Homo sapiens: one gene and its partner. The protein of the gene in region 1 interacts with the protein of each later gene in a biochemical or structural test. Each region holds a gene or a part of one and is shown on either strand. Other genes may lie near its edges.

Region 1 (8,424 bases):
AAACAGAACACTCTTAAACATCAGCTTTAGCCGTTTGTTCAGTGTTGCTCAAAGCCTTTAGAAGAAACAAGAATAAGACGGAACAAAGGCTCCCCTTCTCTGCTCTCTGAAGATGGGTACATACTGTGAGAGGCTCTTTTAAGCAGAAGGAATACAAGAATATCCACCTGCTTCTGAAAAAAGAGACTGCACAAGGTTGTTACCTTGAGTGGTCATAGCTCTTCTGTCTGCTGTTTACAAGTCCTGATGAGCCTCTGGGCTCTAAAAGCAAAAGAGCTGTTGGTTAGATGCAGCATCCATAAGCACCTACTGTTTCCTAACTCACAGCAAGGCTATTATTGAGGCAGGTGGCAATCTGATCACAGTGTTTGAAGTCTTTTTTTTTTTTTTTTAAAGTATTTGGGAAGTTTTAAGGGTAGTTTAAGTGATAAGGAGAAACTGTCCAGAAATGCAATGCAAGATGATTGTTTATTGAATCAGAAAAATCAACTCTATAATCCTAACACACTGATATATTTTGTAGTAAGAAAACAGACTCACAGCCATTAGAAACCTGCTGAACTGCTAGTCAGGAAAGGGGGAGATGGAGCTGGAACCTAGATTGTTTGGCTCCAAAGCCTGTGTTCTTTCCACTACCTCTATGAGGTCTAACAATATATTCAGCCAGAGAATAGAAATTAGAGTATGCAGGAGGAGCATGGAGAGAGTGAAGGGCAAGTTTTTTTTTTTTTTTTTTCAGACGGAGTCTCGCACTGTTGCCCGGGCTGGAGAGCAATGGTGCGATCTCGGCTCACTCCAACCTCCGCCTCCCAGGTTCATGTGATTCTCCTGCCTCAGCCTCCCAAGTAGCTGGGATTACAGGTGCCCGCCACCATGCCTGGTTAATTTTTGCTATTTTTTAGTAGAGACAGGGTTTCACTATGTTGGCCAGGCTGGTCTCGAACTCCTGACCCTATGATCCGCCTGCCTTGGCCTCCCAAAGTGTTGGGATTACAGGTGTGAGCCACCACGCCTGGCCTGTGAAGGGCAAGTTTCAAAAAACCACCAAGAATCACGAAGAGAGAGAGGCTATTTATACCTGGTTTCCATTAGACAGGAGCAGAGAAAAAGAGAAAAAGCTTAGGCTGATCATTACCTCCTCTGATCTGATCAGGGACTGAAGAAACTTCTGGTATGGTAACTGGTAAATCCACTCCTGGGGAACCATGATGATGTACACAAGGAGAGCTCCTTTCAGAAAGACACAATATGGAAAGTAAATTGAAAAGGCACTTATGGCAACAGTGGAGAAATAGTAAACACAGCACAGCAGTGCCAAATTCTCTACAGAGGCTTCACATTTCTGATCCAGATCACATGTCTGGATTTAGGGTTCCATCATAAGGGCTACATTCTACCCCATTTTCCTCTTTAGCCACAGGCAAGCTAGAAATGTTGGCTTCAGTCTGGTCATGTCCCCACCTATATCAAGTGGTGTCAATAAACGGAAATGTCTAGCTTTTGGGGAGAATGGTTTACATTATAGTCAAGGCTCCAGCATTTTCCCTACTATTAGGAGACAAGAATGATTCAGATAGATTCACCAGAGAATTAAAAATAATTAGTTTGGTTTTATAGTGTTTTTTCCCATAATGGATTTAACTTCCTAATTATGACTGTTTGGGTTGAGTTTTTGCTGCCTTTACTGAAGAGTCAATAAAACAAGGAGGGAAGGTCCAGGGATGTTTGTGTTTAAAAACTGGCTCTCAGCCAGGCATAGTGGCTCACACCTGTAATTCCAGCATTTTGGGAGACCCAGGCAGTTGGATCGCTTAAGGCCAGGAGTTCAAGACCAGCCTGGACAACGTGGCAAAACCCCGCTTCTACAATAAATACAAAAATTAGCTAGGTGTGGTGGCCCATGCCTATAGTCCCAGCTACTCAGGGGGCTGAGGTGGGAAGATTGCTTGAGCCTCAGAGGCAGAGGTGGCAGTGAGCCAAGATTGTGCCACTGCACTCCAGCCTGGGCAACAGACTGAGACCCTGTCTCAAAAAAAAAAAAAAAAAAACACAACCAGCTCTCAATAATCAAAATATAAGCAGACAGACTATACTCAGATAATTTAAGGCCAACTAAAACAAATATTTCTTTAAATCCAGAATCCACAAATACTGGGAAATACAACTTTTATTCATCTAAATTCAGACTTTGCTATGGAAAATAGTCTCTTTCCATACTGAGGAAAAAACAGGTTTTGAGATCAGGTCGATTCCTCTCTTTATTTCACCTCTGAAGAACACCCCAGCTGAGGGGGCTGTGAGTGGTACCTGGGCAGTGACGGTGGAAGCTCCACTACCTCTGGGATTAGGGGCACTGTTTCCAGAGTCTGTGAGGTCGTGAGGATGTCACTTATGCTGTGCTCCTGTGGCTGGTTCTCCCCTCCAGGGAGTCTTTCCCCAGCCTCAGCTGGTTCCTGCCCAGCCTCAACCCCAGGCTTGCCTTCAGCACCTCGCTCCAGGCCTGGCTGTGAGAGCGCAGAGCTGTACATAGAATCCCCCAGGGGGCGGCTGGTATCAAAGCACTCAGGCAGGATGATGATGTAATCCTCTGAGGAAGCAGAGGACTGACTTTGAACTTCATCTTTGAGCTCATCCTCCTCCTCCTCATCCTCCTCATCCTCCTCCTCCTCCATGACAGCTTCTTCCTCAGCGATATGGATAATCTCCTCCTTCTCATTTCCAAGTGGTCCTTCAGGCAAGGCAAATGTCACTAAAGGATGAAAGCAACCAATTTTAAGGTGGAAGCTAAAAGCAGGCCTAAGTACTATCCTTACTTGGTAAAGCCTTGTGGATCATAAGCTAGAATTATGAAAGCCAGAGGAGAGGGAAGAACTAAAGGGAAGGGCTGGTTCTGGAACTATGACCATATTCTAAGTTTGAAGACTATGCAAAACAAAATAGAATCAAAGCTCACAGAAACAAGGTAGGCAGAAACACTCAGGTTTCCAAGAAGCTCTATGAATCATAAAAGGAGGCAGCTCCATCCCTTTTTTCCTTTTTATGTGATGGTTAATATACTGAGTAGAGTTTAAACCAAAACTGATACACTAACAGTGCTATAAAAAGAGAAAAAGTTAGGAGATGAGTATTGCAGGATTATATGTCTATCTCCTCCTCTTCTTTACAAAGATGATGCAGTCATGGGAGAAAACTGGCCAATCATGTTTGAGAGGGTAAAAAAGGATAGAAAAAAGCTACCCAGGGCCAGGCACGGTGGCTCACGCTTGTAATCCCAGCACTTTGGGAGGCCAACGTGGGCAGATCATGAGGTCAGGATATCAAGGCCATCCTGGCTAACACGGTGAAACCCCATCTCTACTAAAAATACAAAAAAATTACCCGGGCATGGTGGCGGGCGCCTGTAGTGCCAGCTACTCGGGAGGCTGAGGCAGGAGAATGGTGTGAACCTGGGAAGGCGGAGGTTGCAGTCAGCCGAGACCGCGCTGCTGCACTCCAGCCTGGGTGACAGAGACTGTGTCCCAAAAAAAAAAAAAGCTACCCAGGCCAGGTGTGGTGGCTTACGCCTAAAATCCCAGCACGTTGGGAGGCCAAGGCAGGCAGACTGCTTGAGCTCAGAAGTTTGGGACCAGCCTGGGCAACGTGGCGAAATCCCATCTCTACAAAAAAAAAAAAATTTAGCTCATTGTGGTAGCATGTGGCTGTGGTCCCAGTTGCTTGGGAAACAGAGGTAGGGGGACCCCAGGATGTTGTGGCTGCAATGAGCCATAAACTTGCTACTCGCACTTTAGCCTGGGCGAGTGAGACCTTATCTCAAAAAAAAAAAAAAAATTACCCATAAATCCTATCAGAATAACAGCTGTGAACATTTTGGTACTGTCTTTCCAGACCTTTTTGTTATGTATTTGTACACACATGTGGAAAAAAATATAAAGATATACATGACTGATTGATTTGAGATGGAGTCTCACTCTGTTGCCCAGGCTGAAGTGCAGTAGCATGATCTCAGCTCACTGCAAGCTGCACCTCCCAGGTTCACGCCATTCTCCTGCCTCAGCCTCCCGAGTAGCTGGGATTACAGGTGCGCCCGCCACCACACCCAGCTTATTTTTTGTATTTTTAGTAGAGATGGGGTTTCACCGTGTTAGCCAGGATAGTCTTCATCTCCTGACCTCATGATCCGCCCACCTCGGCCTCCCAACGTGCTGGGATTACAGGTATGAGCCACCGCACCTGGCCACATGTACACTTTATTATTTTTTTTTTTTAGACGGAGTCTCGCTCTGTCACCCAGGCTGGAGTGCAGTGGTGCGATCTCAGCTCACTGCAACCTTGGCTTCCCGGGTTCAAGCAGTTCTCCTGCCTCAGCGTCTTGAGTAGCTGGATCACAGGCACACGCTACCACGCCCAGCTAATTTTTGTATTTTTAGTAGAAATGGGGTTTCTCCATGTTGGTCAGGCTGGTCTCAAACTCCTGAGCTTGTGATCTGTCCGCCTCGGCCTCACAAAGTGCTGGGATTACAGGCGTGAGCCACTGCGCCTGGCCTTACATGTATACTTTAAACAAAAGTAAGATAAATAATATTTAAAGATATAGGTCAAATTTGATTATAATAAAGAGATTCTCCAATATTATTTTGACATAGTATATTTGAATTTTTGGATACTTCTTAAAATATATGCTATTGGTTCTATCTATCTGATACCTAGAAGTTTCTGTTATAAAGGTATTTATTCCTTTTTTTTTTTTTGAGACGGAGTTTCACTCTTGTTGCCAGGCTGGAGTGCAATGGCGCCATCTCGGCTAACCACAGCCTTCGCCTCCCGGGTTAAAGTGATTCTCCTGCCTCAGCCTCCCAAGTACCTGGGATTACAGGCATGTAATCCTTGGCATGTAGCCACCACACCTGGCTAATTTTTAGTATTTTTAGTAGAGATGGGGTTTCTCCATGTCGGTCAGGCTGGTCTCGAACTCCCAACCTCAGGTGATCCACCCGCCTCAGCCTCATAAAGTGCTAGGATTACAAGGGTGAGCCACTGTGCCCGGCCTATAAAGGTATTTATTACAGCAGAATTTAACCTTGAGAAACTTTGTTGGTACTCCTGCTTCTATCCACTGTTTCTGGGACTGCTGCCCTTGGAGAAAGCAGACAACTCAGCTACCCATAGGGGTCTCTGCTAAGGAGCTCTGTCAAATTACAGGAAGATTCCTTACTGCAGAATCCAGGCAGCACAACTGGCTGCTATTCCACTGTGGAATGCAGCTGTAATTCTGCCCCTGAGAAGATGGAGAAATGAGTATGATGGCTTCTTTACTCCTGATGCTCTAATTAGAACAGTCAGGTAGCATACGTAGAGTCTAAAGACACAAACAAGATCAGAATTTCTTTTTTTTTTTTTGAGATGGAGTCTCGCTTTGTCGCCCAGGCTAGAGTGCAGTGGCGCAATCTTGGCTCACTGCAAGCTCCGCCTCCCGGGTTCATGCCATTCTCCTGCCTCAGCCTCCCGAGTAGCTGGGACTACAGGCACCCGCCACGTCGCCAGGCTAATTTTTTGTATTTTTAGTAGAGATGGGATTTCACCATGTTAGCCAGGATGGACTTGATCTCCTGACCTTGTGATCCGCCTGCCTTGGCCTCCCAAAGTGCTGGGATTACAGGCTTGAGCCACCACGCCCCGCCAAGATCAGAACTTCTAACTAAGATCACTCTCCCTTCAGTCTCAGTGAAGAAGAGCACATCTAACTAGTCAAGTCTGGCAGTCACAATTCAGGTGCCACCCTGCTAGGTAGGGGAAATGCAAGGACACTCACTCTGCAAGGACTTCTGTCTGCAAGGAGGGTTGTGGTCTGGGGCAGCATCCAAGGTAAGGGATCGGATTACTGTCTCACACACAAACTGGGTCCCACTCAGGTCTTCTTCTGCTTCCTCCACAGAAGCAATGTTCTCAGCCTTCCTCTTTACTGACACCATAGAATCTGAAAGACACACGAACCTTATCTGCACTGGGTGTTTAAAGTGCTGAGGAACATTCACCAGTCATTACCCATGCTAAAACTAAACCAAGGAATAGCTGCTATCTAAACTTTGTCTGCACTTGGTGTTTAAAGTGCTGAAGAACATTCACCAGTCATTACCCATGCTAAAACTAAACCAAGGAATAGCTGCTATCTGTGCCATGTGAAGGTGAGGAGACTTCAAAACATGAGATGCTACAGAAAGCAAGCCCATTTACATGCTAAGGTAGGGTCAGTAGGGGATAGCTGTAAAATAGGGTATGATATGGAAAGGGAGGATGCAAATACTTTACAAATGTTTAATCCCTTACCAGGAAGTGCTTTAAATCCTGCCCCTTCATTCTCTTCCTCTATCTGCCCCAAGCCTGGCTTCTCTATTAAAGGACTGTCATGTGGCAGAGGAGACATGCAGGGAGTCACATCTGGAGAATGAAGACAGGAGAACCATCAATCAAGAGAAAGCATCATATCATCAACAGTCAGTGTCCAGAAGTAGCAGTTTGTAGGCTTCTTGCCTCCCGCAGGGCTAAAATAAACCAAGATATGCTTTGAGGTCTGTTACAAAAAATTTCTCCAGACCAATAAGTAAGCAAAATATCTCAGATCAATCAATGCAGGAAGAATCACAGTTATTTAGCCTGGAAAGCTGTGGCCAAGACACAAAACCATGAACATAAAGGAACAAAAGGACACAAGTATCTAGAGGGAAAAAAGAGAAGAGGATTCCTTTATAGTGGAAAAGCCTTGCACGAACTTGTTTTATTGCTTTTTTTTTTTTTTTTGAGATGCAGTCTTGCTCTGTCACCCAGGCTAGAATGCAGTGGCACAATCTCGGCTCACTGCAACCTCCGCCTCCCAGGTTCAAGCAACTCTCTGCCTCAGCCTCCCGAGTAGCTGGGATTACAGGCACCTGCCACCATGCCTGGCTAATTTTTGTATTTTTAGTAGAGATGGGGTTTCACCATCTTGGCCAGGCTGGTCTTGAACTTCTGACCTTGTGATCCACCAGCCTTGGCCTCCCAAAGTGCTGGGATTACAGGCGTGAGCTACCGTGCCCAGCCTCTTTTTTTTGTTTGTTTTTTGAGATTGGGTTTCACTCTGTCATCCAGGCTGGAGAGCAATGGCACAATCCTGGCTCACTGCAGCCTCTGCCTCCTGGGATCAGGAGATTCTCCCACTTCAGTCTCCCTGGTAGCTGGGACCACAGGTGCAGGCCACCATGCCAAGCTAATTTTTTTTTTTTTTTTTTTTGAGACGGAGTTTTGCTCTTGTTGTCCTGGCTGGAGTGCAATGGTGCAATCTCAGCTCACCACAACCTCCGCCTTCTGGGTTCAAGCAATTCTCCCGCCTCAGCCTCCCGAGTAGTTCGGATTACAGGCATGTGCCACCATGCCCAGCTAATTTTGTATTTTTAGTAGAGAAGGGGTTTCTCCATGTTGGTCAGGCTGGTCTCAAACTCCCGACCTCAGGTGATCTGCCCGTCTCAGCCTCCCAAAGTGCTGGGATTACAGGCGTGAGCCACCGTGCCTGGCCACACCCAGCTAATTTTTAAAAGTAATTTTTGTAGAGATGGGGGTTTCACCATGTTGCCCAGGCTGGTCTCAAACCCTGGCCTCAAGTGATCCTCCTGCCTTGGCCTCCCAAAGAGCTGGGATTATAGACACGAGCCACCATGCCCAGCATGTTGTTACTTTTGACAAAGGACAGGAAAGAAGAAAAACGGATCCATGATTGCTGCTTTACTATCCTACTGTGGGAGAAATCCTTGCCATTTCCTCAGAATAAAACACTACCAGTGTCTAGGCTGTGGTACTTTTGTGCCTATTAGTAAGACGAACAAGATGAAATGAGTGACATTCTTACCCACAGGGGTGTTGTGGGGCACTCTCTCCAACTCTTGAACAATGTTTATATCCAACAGCTCAAAGGACAGCAGGTCCTATAAAAAAAGACAATGTTAGGCTGTTTGGAGTGCATGCTGGAGCCATGTCTTGATGGGACCTGTAGACCATTTCCACATCATTTCGTATTCAACTCTGTTCAAATTCATGCCTGTCCCCAGACAAGTGAAAACAAGAAGAGTTAAATGGGAATTAGATGTTGAAATAACCCAATAGCAGGAAAGAGAAAATGCAGCAGGTATGAAGGAGAATTAGCTAGGCCAAGGTGAAGAGGCAACTAAAGGGAGTTTGTGGGGAAGTACAGGATTGAGTTCCCAATTCAAAGAGGAAACATCTAGTTTACAAACTTGCTTCCATGGGTGATCTCCTTCCCATTAAATATACCTGACTAGATCAAAGTGGGCATATCTCTGATTTCCTGATTACTGCCTATGGCTCTACCACCTTCTCTCCTGTGCTCTCTCCCTCTGTCCCTTGCCCTTCAAAGTGCTGAATCTTCCACCTGGGCAG
Region 2 (7,712 bases), on another chromosome or scaffold:
GAGTATCGCTCTTGTTGCCCAGGCTGGAGTGCAATGGTGCGATCTCGGCTCACCGCAACCTCCACCTCCCGGGTTCAGGCGATTCTCCTGCCTCAGCCTCCCAAGTAGCTGGGATTACAGGCATGCGCCACCACGTCCAACTAATTTTATATTTTTAGTAGAGACAGGGTTTCTCTATGTTGGTCAGGCTGGACTCGAACTCCCGACCTCAGGTGATCTGCCCACCTCGGCCTCCCAAAGTGCTGGAATTACAGGTATGAGCCACCACACCCAGCCCCACCTGGCTACTATTTTTAATTTTTTAATTTTAATTTTTTTTTTTGAGATGGAGTCTTGCTTTGTCACTCCGGCTAGAGTGCAGTGGTGCAATCTCAGCTCAGTGCAACCTCCGCCTCCTGGATTCAAGTGATCCTCCTGCCTCAGCCTCCCAAGTAGCTGGGATTACAGGCATGTGCCACCATGCCCAGCTAACTTCTGTATTTTTAGTAGAGACGGGGTATCACCATGTTGGCGAGGCTGGTCTTAAACTCCTAACCTGAAGTGATCCGCCCACCTCAGCCTCCCAAAGTGCTGAGATTACAGGCGTTAGCCACCGCGCCCAGCCTTATTTTTTATAGAGATGAGGTTTTGCCGTATTGCCCAGGCTAGTTTCAAATTCCTGGGCTCAAGCAATCTGCCTGCCTCGGCCTCTCAGAGTGCTGGGAGTGTCACCACACCTGGCCACAGTCTTTTTTTTTAAATTTAAGTGTATATAGTGAGCAATTTCTCCATGTTAAGGAATAGATTTCCACAGCATCATTTAAAGTCTCACTGTATGCCATCTTGTGTTTTATTTGGCCAACAGTCATTGTTAGCCTTATAGGTTGTTCAGAATTTTGCTATTTCAATAAGCACTGTGGTGAACCTCCTTGTAGCAAATCTTTTGTAGATTCCTAATTACTCCAACCAAGTCTTCAGTGGAGGTGCCATGTTCATGCTATGCACTTTCTGGAGACTTCTGTCTGACTCATTCAGTCCAATTATTCTGCCAGAAGGCTGAATTTAATTCCATGTGGGGCTGAAGCACCATACCTGAGTCCATAGACAGGAGCGTTTTACTTAGAAAGAAAAAATAACTGGTCAGTCTTAACTCAAAAGGGTGTAAATCACAGGTTTGCTCGGTAATAAAAAATTCAGACTGCCTCTGTTCTTTCAATAGCAGTTCTTGTGAGACACTGGTTTTGGTCTCAGGGTTTGCGTCACCTTTCTGAAATTGATAATCACCAATTTGAATTCCTGTCCTGGAAGCAGCTGTCTTTTAACCTAGGTTTCCAAACTTTGGGGGTGGTAGGATTATGGCCGAATAAAGTTTTCTGGATGTGCTGTGGAGGAGGGTGGTACAGGCCAGATGATGGAAGCCTAGGGACAAAAACAAGCAACATGGGATCTCCCTGGTGTCTGATTTTTATTTATTTATTTATTTTTAAAGAGACAGGGTCTCACTCTGTCACCCAGGCTGGAGTGCAGTGGTGTGATCACTGCTCACTGCAGCCCTAAACTCCTGGGCTCAAGCGATCCTTCTGCCTCAGCCTCCTGAGTAGCTGGGACTAGAGACACATGCTACCATGCCTGGCACTTAAAACTTTTTCTTTTTGGCCAGGCACGGTGGCTCACGCCGGTAATCCCAGCACATTGGGAGGCTGAGGTGGGCGGATCATGAGGTCAGGAGATCGAGACCATCCTGGCTAACACGGTGAGATCGAAACCATCCTGGCTAACATGGTGAAACCCCATCTCTACTAAAAATACAAAAAATTAGCCAGGCATGGTGGCGGGTGCCTGTAGTCCCAGCTACTCGGGAGGCTGAGGCAAGAGAATGGTGTGAACCCAGTAGGCAGAGGTTGCAGTGAGCCAAGATCGCGCCACTGCACTCCAGCCTAGGCAACAGAGTGAGATTCCGTCTCAAAAAAAAAAAAAACAAAAAAAACTTTTTCTTTTTTTTGCCGGGCACGGTGGCTCACACCTGTAATCCCAGCATTTTGGGAGCCCGAGGCGGGCAGATCACGAGGTCAAGGGATCGAGACCTTCCTGGCCAACATGGTGAAACCCTGTCTCTACTAAAAATACAAAAATTAGCTGGGCGTGGTGGCACGTGCCTGTAGTCCCAACTACTTGGGAGGCTAAGGCAGGAGAATTGCTTGAACCCGGGAGGTGGAGGTTGCAGTGAGCCGAGATCACACCACTGAACTCCAGCCTGGTGACAGAGCAAGACTCCATCTCAAAAAAAAAAAAAAAATTTTTTTTTTTTTTGTAGAGACTGAGTCTCTCTTTTTCGCCTAGGCTGGTCTCAAATGCTTGGCTTCAAGCAACCCTCCTACCTAGACCTCCCAAAGTACTGGGATTATAGCTGTGAGCCATTGCACCCAGACTGATTTTTAATAATGTGCTAGCAGCATGACCTTTACACCTTGGAACCTTGCCTCTGCTGCTACAGAGCCTGGCGTTTCCCTTCAGGTCACCTCGACAGAGTGGGGTCCATTCTGCTCTGAATCCAAACTGCAGCAAAGTAGCAGATGCAAAGCAGACAGGAATGCAACTTCTTGGCAAGGACATCACCTTGCTTCACCTGCTAGGACTGCACTCAGAAAACAGGTAGGAATTGAAGTCCGACAGCAAAGCAGAAGGTGGTGGTTCTGAGTCAGTGCTGGGTGCGGGGGAAAGCACTCACGCGGGCCTTCATGAGTGCCAGGGCCCTCTCTGAGAACCCGATCAGCCTCATGCAGTGATGGATCCTGCCGGGGCCCAGTCTGCCCTGGGCGATCTCAAAGCCTCGGCCAGGGCCCAGGACCATGTTCTCTTTGGGCACACGCACGTGCTCAAATCGGACTTCACCATGGCCACCTGAAAGACCCAAACGATCACTGTGAGCAATAGCCATAGTCATTTTCCTTGGATGTGTTTATTCCTCACCTCAGTCTGGGTTATCTGCTGGCAATGTCCCTGCCCTTTATTTAGCCTTCTTACTGGGACATGGTTAAAGGGAAAAGGACGGCAGGAAACAGCCTGTTAAACACAGAAAATGAATCACTGATTTATAATGGCAAATGACTATTCTGTGATTCCTTTTATAAAAACATAATAATGCCACCTTAAGCTGAAGCTCCTAGTGGTTTGTGACAATGTAGTGATCCTATGAAAACACTGAAAGTAAAAATGTGAACACTATTAGCAGAGAACCAAACTGGGAGCGGACCAAACCAGGGCTGTGGCCTAGAGGTCAGCTGTTCACACTGGGGCCTGGAAGAGTAGGTTTGGGGTCCACTTCCTGCGTCTGCCCTGTATGGCTTCCTGTGTCACAGACTCCTGATTACTTTCTAAGTTTAGAAGAGGGAAAAAAATCCATAAATGCCTGTCTGAAATCCGCCTGCATGGTTGATATTCATGTATGGAAATGAAATGCAGGAGCATGTGACTCCAAATGTCATCATACCCTCAGACGTGGGATGTGGCAAGTCCTGAACAAGAGCAGGGGCCCCTCAGTGGTGTTTCCTGGGGACCAGACCCACACCCAGGGGTGACCCGCCCCTGGAGGTCTCACCTGGTGCATCTTCCAGTCCATACACCGTCAGAGGCCGGATGATTTTTATCCCTGGGGTATCCATGGGAACCAAGAGCACAGACTGCTGCCGGTGTCTTGGTGCATGTGGGTCTGTTTTTCCCATAAACACACAGAGTTGGCAACGAGGATCCAGGATGCCTGCCAGGAAAGGAGAGAGACAGACCCCATCATCTGACACCAGGGCCATCAAATCTCTACACACGTGGTCCTGGCCCAAGAAAGGCACAGTAAGGAAGCAGACAGAGCTCTTTAAGGCTCCATGTAATCAGATGAGCATCTGCAGACTGCTGACCAGAAATAAGAGCAAATTGGGTTTTGTCCCAGTGAGGAATGAATCCAACATCATAAGAGCAAGTTTTTAAAAGCATCACATAGAGTAGAAAATATAATTTAGAGACAAGAGGATGAAAACCGCTACTTGATCCCTGCCAGCTGGCTCGGCTCCCACAGGTGGTGCACACATAACGGCTCTGGGCCCGGGCCTTGGAATCAGGTGAACCTTTGACTCTGGGTTCTCTACTTGCTGGCTGGGGGCTCATACCCCAGGCAAGGGACCTAAGTCTGAGTGCGGTTTCCTCCTTTGCAAAATGGGGATGCTCATTCTTAATGTCCAGGGAGGTATGGGCTCCGGGAGGTAAGCTCCACGGCTACTTGTAGGGGCCCTGCAAAAGTAACACTGGACAATCCCTAAAAGTCAGGATTGTCATTAGCCCTTAGGATGTAACACACCTGATCGAGGAGCCAGGAAGCCACCAAGGAAGGGGAGCTGCCCAAAGCAGAATGAACAGCAGGAAGTGGAGAGATTCCTGGGGTCACATGTGCAGGGAGGCATCCGTCCATGTGTGGGCACCGGGGGACGTCCCTGCCCTGTGAAGTGCCACCTCTGAGAACAGTGTGCTCCACGGATTACCCTCCTATTCTCCCAGCTGCCTCTGCTGGGGGCGCTAAGTGACAGAATCTCCTTTGTGTCAACTTGAAAAAGCAGAGGCTCCTCCCAGGCATTGAGAGACGCGCCTAACAGCACAGACTCCCTGATGTGCATTTGGAAAGTGCATTTTAGGCCAAATACCTGTGATCCACCATTTGTGACCGTTTATGACATAGAAGCTGTCCTCCTCTCTGATGGAAGCCTCAATGTTGGTGGCATCTGAAGAGGCAACCTGAGTGGGGAGCATATTCCAGTCAGAGACGCCAGCAGACAGCCCGTGTTCCCTGTGGGGCCGACAACAACAGGGCCAGGCAAGTGGGTGGCAGCCCAGGCGACGTACCTGGGGCTCGGTCATAGCAAAACAGGAGCGGGCTTTCCCCTCCAGCAGAGGAATCAGCCAGCGAGCCTTCTGCGCTTCGGTGCCATACCTCACCAGCAGCTCCATGTTGCCCGTGTCAGGCGCAGAGCAGTTACATACCTGAGAAGGAAAAGGAGCGTGACCATGACTGTCATGTCCTCTTCTAAAAAAAACAGAGTCAAGCTCTGTCACCCAGGCTGGAGTATCGTGGCACGATCATGGCTCACTGCAGCCTCGACTTCCTCAGCTCAAGCCATCCTCCCATGCCTCAGCTTCCCAAGCAGCTGAGACTACAGGTATGCACCATCACACCCGATTAATTTTTTATTTTTTTGTACATACAGAGTTCTATGTTGCACACGCTGGTGTCGAACTCCTGGCCTCAAGTGATCCCCCACACTTCGGCCTCCAAAAGTACCGGGATTACAGGTGTGAGCCACCATGCCTGGCCTTCTCACATTAATATTTCAAGCTTCAAATTGGATGGGCATGGTGGCTCACGCCTGTAATCCCAGCACTTTGTGGGGCCAGGGTAGGTGGATCACCTGAGGTCAGGAGTTTGAGACCAGTCTGGCCAACATGGTAAAACCCTGTATCTACTAAAAATACAAAAATTAGCCAGGTGTGGTGGCACATGCCTGTAGTCCCAGCTACTTGGGAAGCTGAGGCAGGAGAACCACTTGAACCCAGGAGGCAGGGGTTGCAGTGCGCCAAGATTTCGCCACTACACTCCAGCCTGGGTGACAGAGCGAGACTCCATCTCAAAAAAAAAAAAAAGTTCAAGTTCATGCCAGTGCTTCTGAATCTGGTTTATCTGTTTAGGATTGAGTTCTTATGAAGATCAGGATGTTCCCACACACTGAGGAAAACTTTAAAGAAGGTACCTCGGGGGCATACAGGGACGTGCCCATGAGCTCACACAGATGTGCATATTCCACATTGGTCAGTCCTGCTCCGTATTTTTTCTCGGGATCAGCCTCTAAGGGTAGGAAAAGGTTCCAAAGTCCTTCAGCTTTGGCTTTCTCCTATCATGGGGAAAATAAGTCAGGAAACCACAGTGGAAGATTTCATTTTATTTTGAACCGTGGAAAACAATGAAAGGGATTGGAGGAAACAAGGCAGACAACCAAACATGCACGTGTGCCCAAAAAAATGATATGAGGAGCTGGGCATGGTGGCTGTGCCTGTGGTCCCAGCTACACAGGAGGCTGAAGTGGGAGGATCACATGAGCCCAGGAGGTTGAGACTGCAGTGAGCTATGACCACACCACTGCATTCCACCCTGGGTGACAAAGCGAGACCCTGTCTCAAAAAAAAAAAAAAAAAAAAAAAAGAGAGAGATGGTGGCTCACGCCTGTAATCCCAGCACTTTGGGAGGCCGAGGCGGGCGGATCACAAAGTCAGGAGTTCAAGACCAGCCTGAACAACATGGTGAAACTCCATCTCCATTAAAAATACAAAAATTAGCTGGGCATGGTGGCACGTGCCTATAATCCCAGTTACTCGGGAGGCTGAGGCAGGAGAATCGCTTGAACCTGGGAGGCGGAAGTTGCACAGAGCAAGACTCCGTCTCAAAAAAAAAGAGAAAAAAAGAAAAGTAGATGATGATTGCATTATGCTCCTGAAGATCTCAAGTAATTTCAAAACTAACACAATCCAAGGTTCACGTGATAAGGAACAGCGGGTGTTTCTGTTTATCAGCTGAAGTGACAGCACTGGGAGACAACACAGAAACTCAGCTCACAGTGGATCTGGCCCTCTAGCTGTGATATTACGGGTTCTCTAGAGAGAGATTTATTAGCTGATACAGCACTGTTTCAAATTTACATAATTCAAATACCCATCAGATAGGCCTAACCTGCCCTGGCTTTCTAAGGCCAAGCATTCCACTGCCTGGGCTGTGCAGTCACACCTGAGCCATCTGCCTGTGACACAGGCACAGCAAGAGCAAGAGATGGAAACTGAGTCATGAAGAGCTGGCTCTTTCTGAGACGATGGAAGCAAAGATCATTCAACTCGGAGCTCCTGTATCTTCACTGCCTGGGATGGTTCAGGTGAGCCCGGTGGGGTCGGGGAGGGTATGCCATGGTATTGGGGTCTTACCACCTCACCATGGCTGCTTTACCTTGAGGTCTTCGATCAGTGGGGAGGGGCTCCACCTGGCTGCTGAGGCCTGGTGACTCTGCAGCTCTGGCTCTGCAGGGTACACACGTTGCTCCATGAAGTGCTTCAGCCGGTGATACAGCTCTCTGACAGGTGGAGAGAGGCTCTCTGGAGAGATAACCAGACCTCCCCTTGAGGTATGAGCTGGGGAAGCTTCTGGAACGGAGCTATAACTCCTGCTGCCTGTGGGGCACCACTGGGACTGGGGCCTGGCCCACGTGTGGTAGGACCTTGTTAACGGATTTGTGAAGGGCATCTCTTTGAAAACCCGGAACCCTTCTTTGACTGCGAAATCCCACGCCAGGTTAGACACAAATTCGGTCAGCTTTCCAGTTTGTTCCGCATATGTGGAGCTTGCTTGCCCTAAGCAGAATCAAAGAAAAACAGTGATTACTCCCACACGACCCATCATAGGGATGTTAACATGTGATGACACTGTCACTTCAGCAGCTATTGCCATTTGCTGAGCACTTGCTAAGTACCAAACACTGTGCTAAGAGCCACTATAGCTCACTGAATCCCCAAAGCAATACAACTGCTTTCACCTGCACTTTGCACGCAAGAAAACTGAGTCTTAGAGAAGGAGGTGACTTGGACGAGCTGGAAGTTAGGGGGCTGGGGGCCAGAGTCCAACTTAGGTCTGCCTGCTCCCTGCTCTTGATCTC

What was found. Proteins that work in one complex are often made in the same cells at the same time.
Region 2: the proteins of NBR1 (region 1) and ACAD10 interact in a test that uses a peptide from one of them, tested with the Homo sapiens proteins (one study listed by BioGRID).

The regions. Positions count from the first base shown.
Region 1 is NC_000017.11:43,194,492-43,202,915, reverse strand, and holds part of NBR1 (next to BRCA1 gene 1 protein), read right to left. Parts: coding exon 8,417-8,424; intron 7,953-8,416; coding exon 7,877-7,952; intron 6,436-7,876; coding exon 6,325-6,435; intron 5,975-6,324; coding exon 5,810-5,974; intron 2,750-5,809; coding exon 2,308-2,749; intron 1,231-2,307; coding exon 1,136-1,230; intron 262-1,135; coding exon 204-261; intron 1-203. UniProt on the Homo sapiens protein: Ubiquitin-binding autophagy adapter that participates in different processes including host defense or intracellular homeostasis.
Region 2 is NC_000012.12:111,744,341-111,752,052, reverse strand, and holds part of ACAD10 (acyl-CoA dehydrogenase family member 10), read right to left. Parts: intron 7,411-7,712; coding exon 7,010-7,410; intron 5,910-7,009; coding exon 5,769-5,909; intron 5,005-5,768; coding exon 4,867-5,004; intron 4,759-4,866; coding exon 4,668-4,758; intron 3,737-4,667; coding exon 3,578-3,736; intron 2,881-3,577; coding exon 2,708-2,880; intron 1-2,707.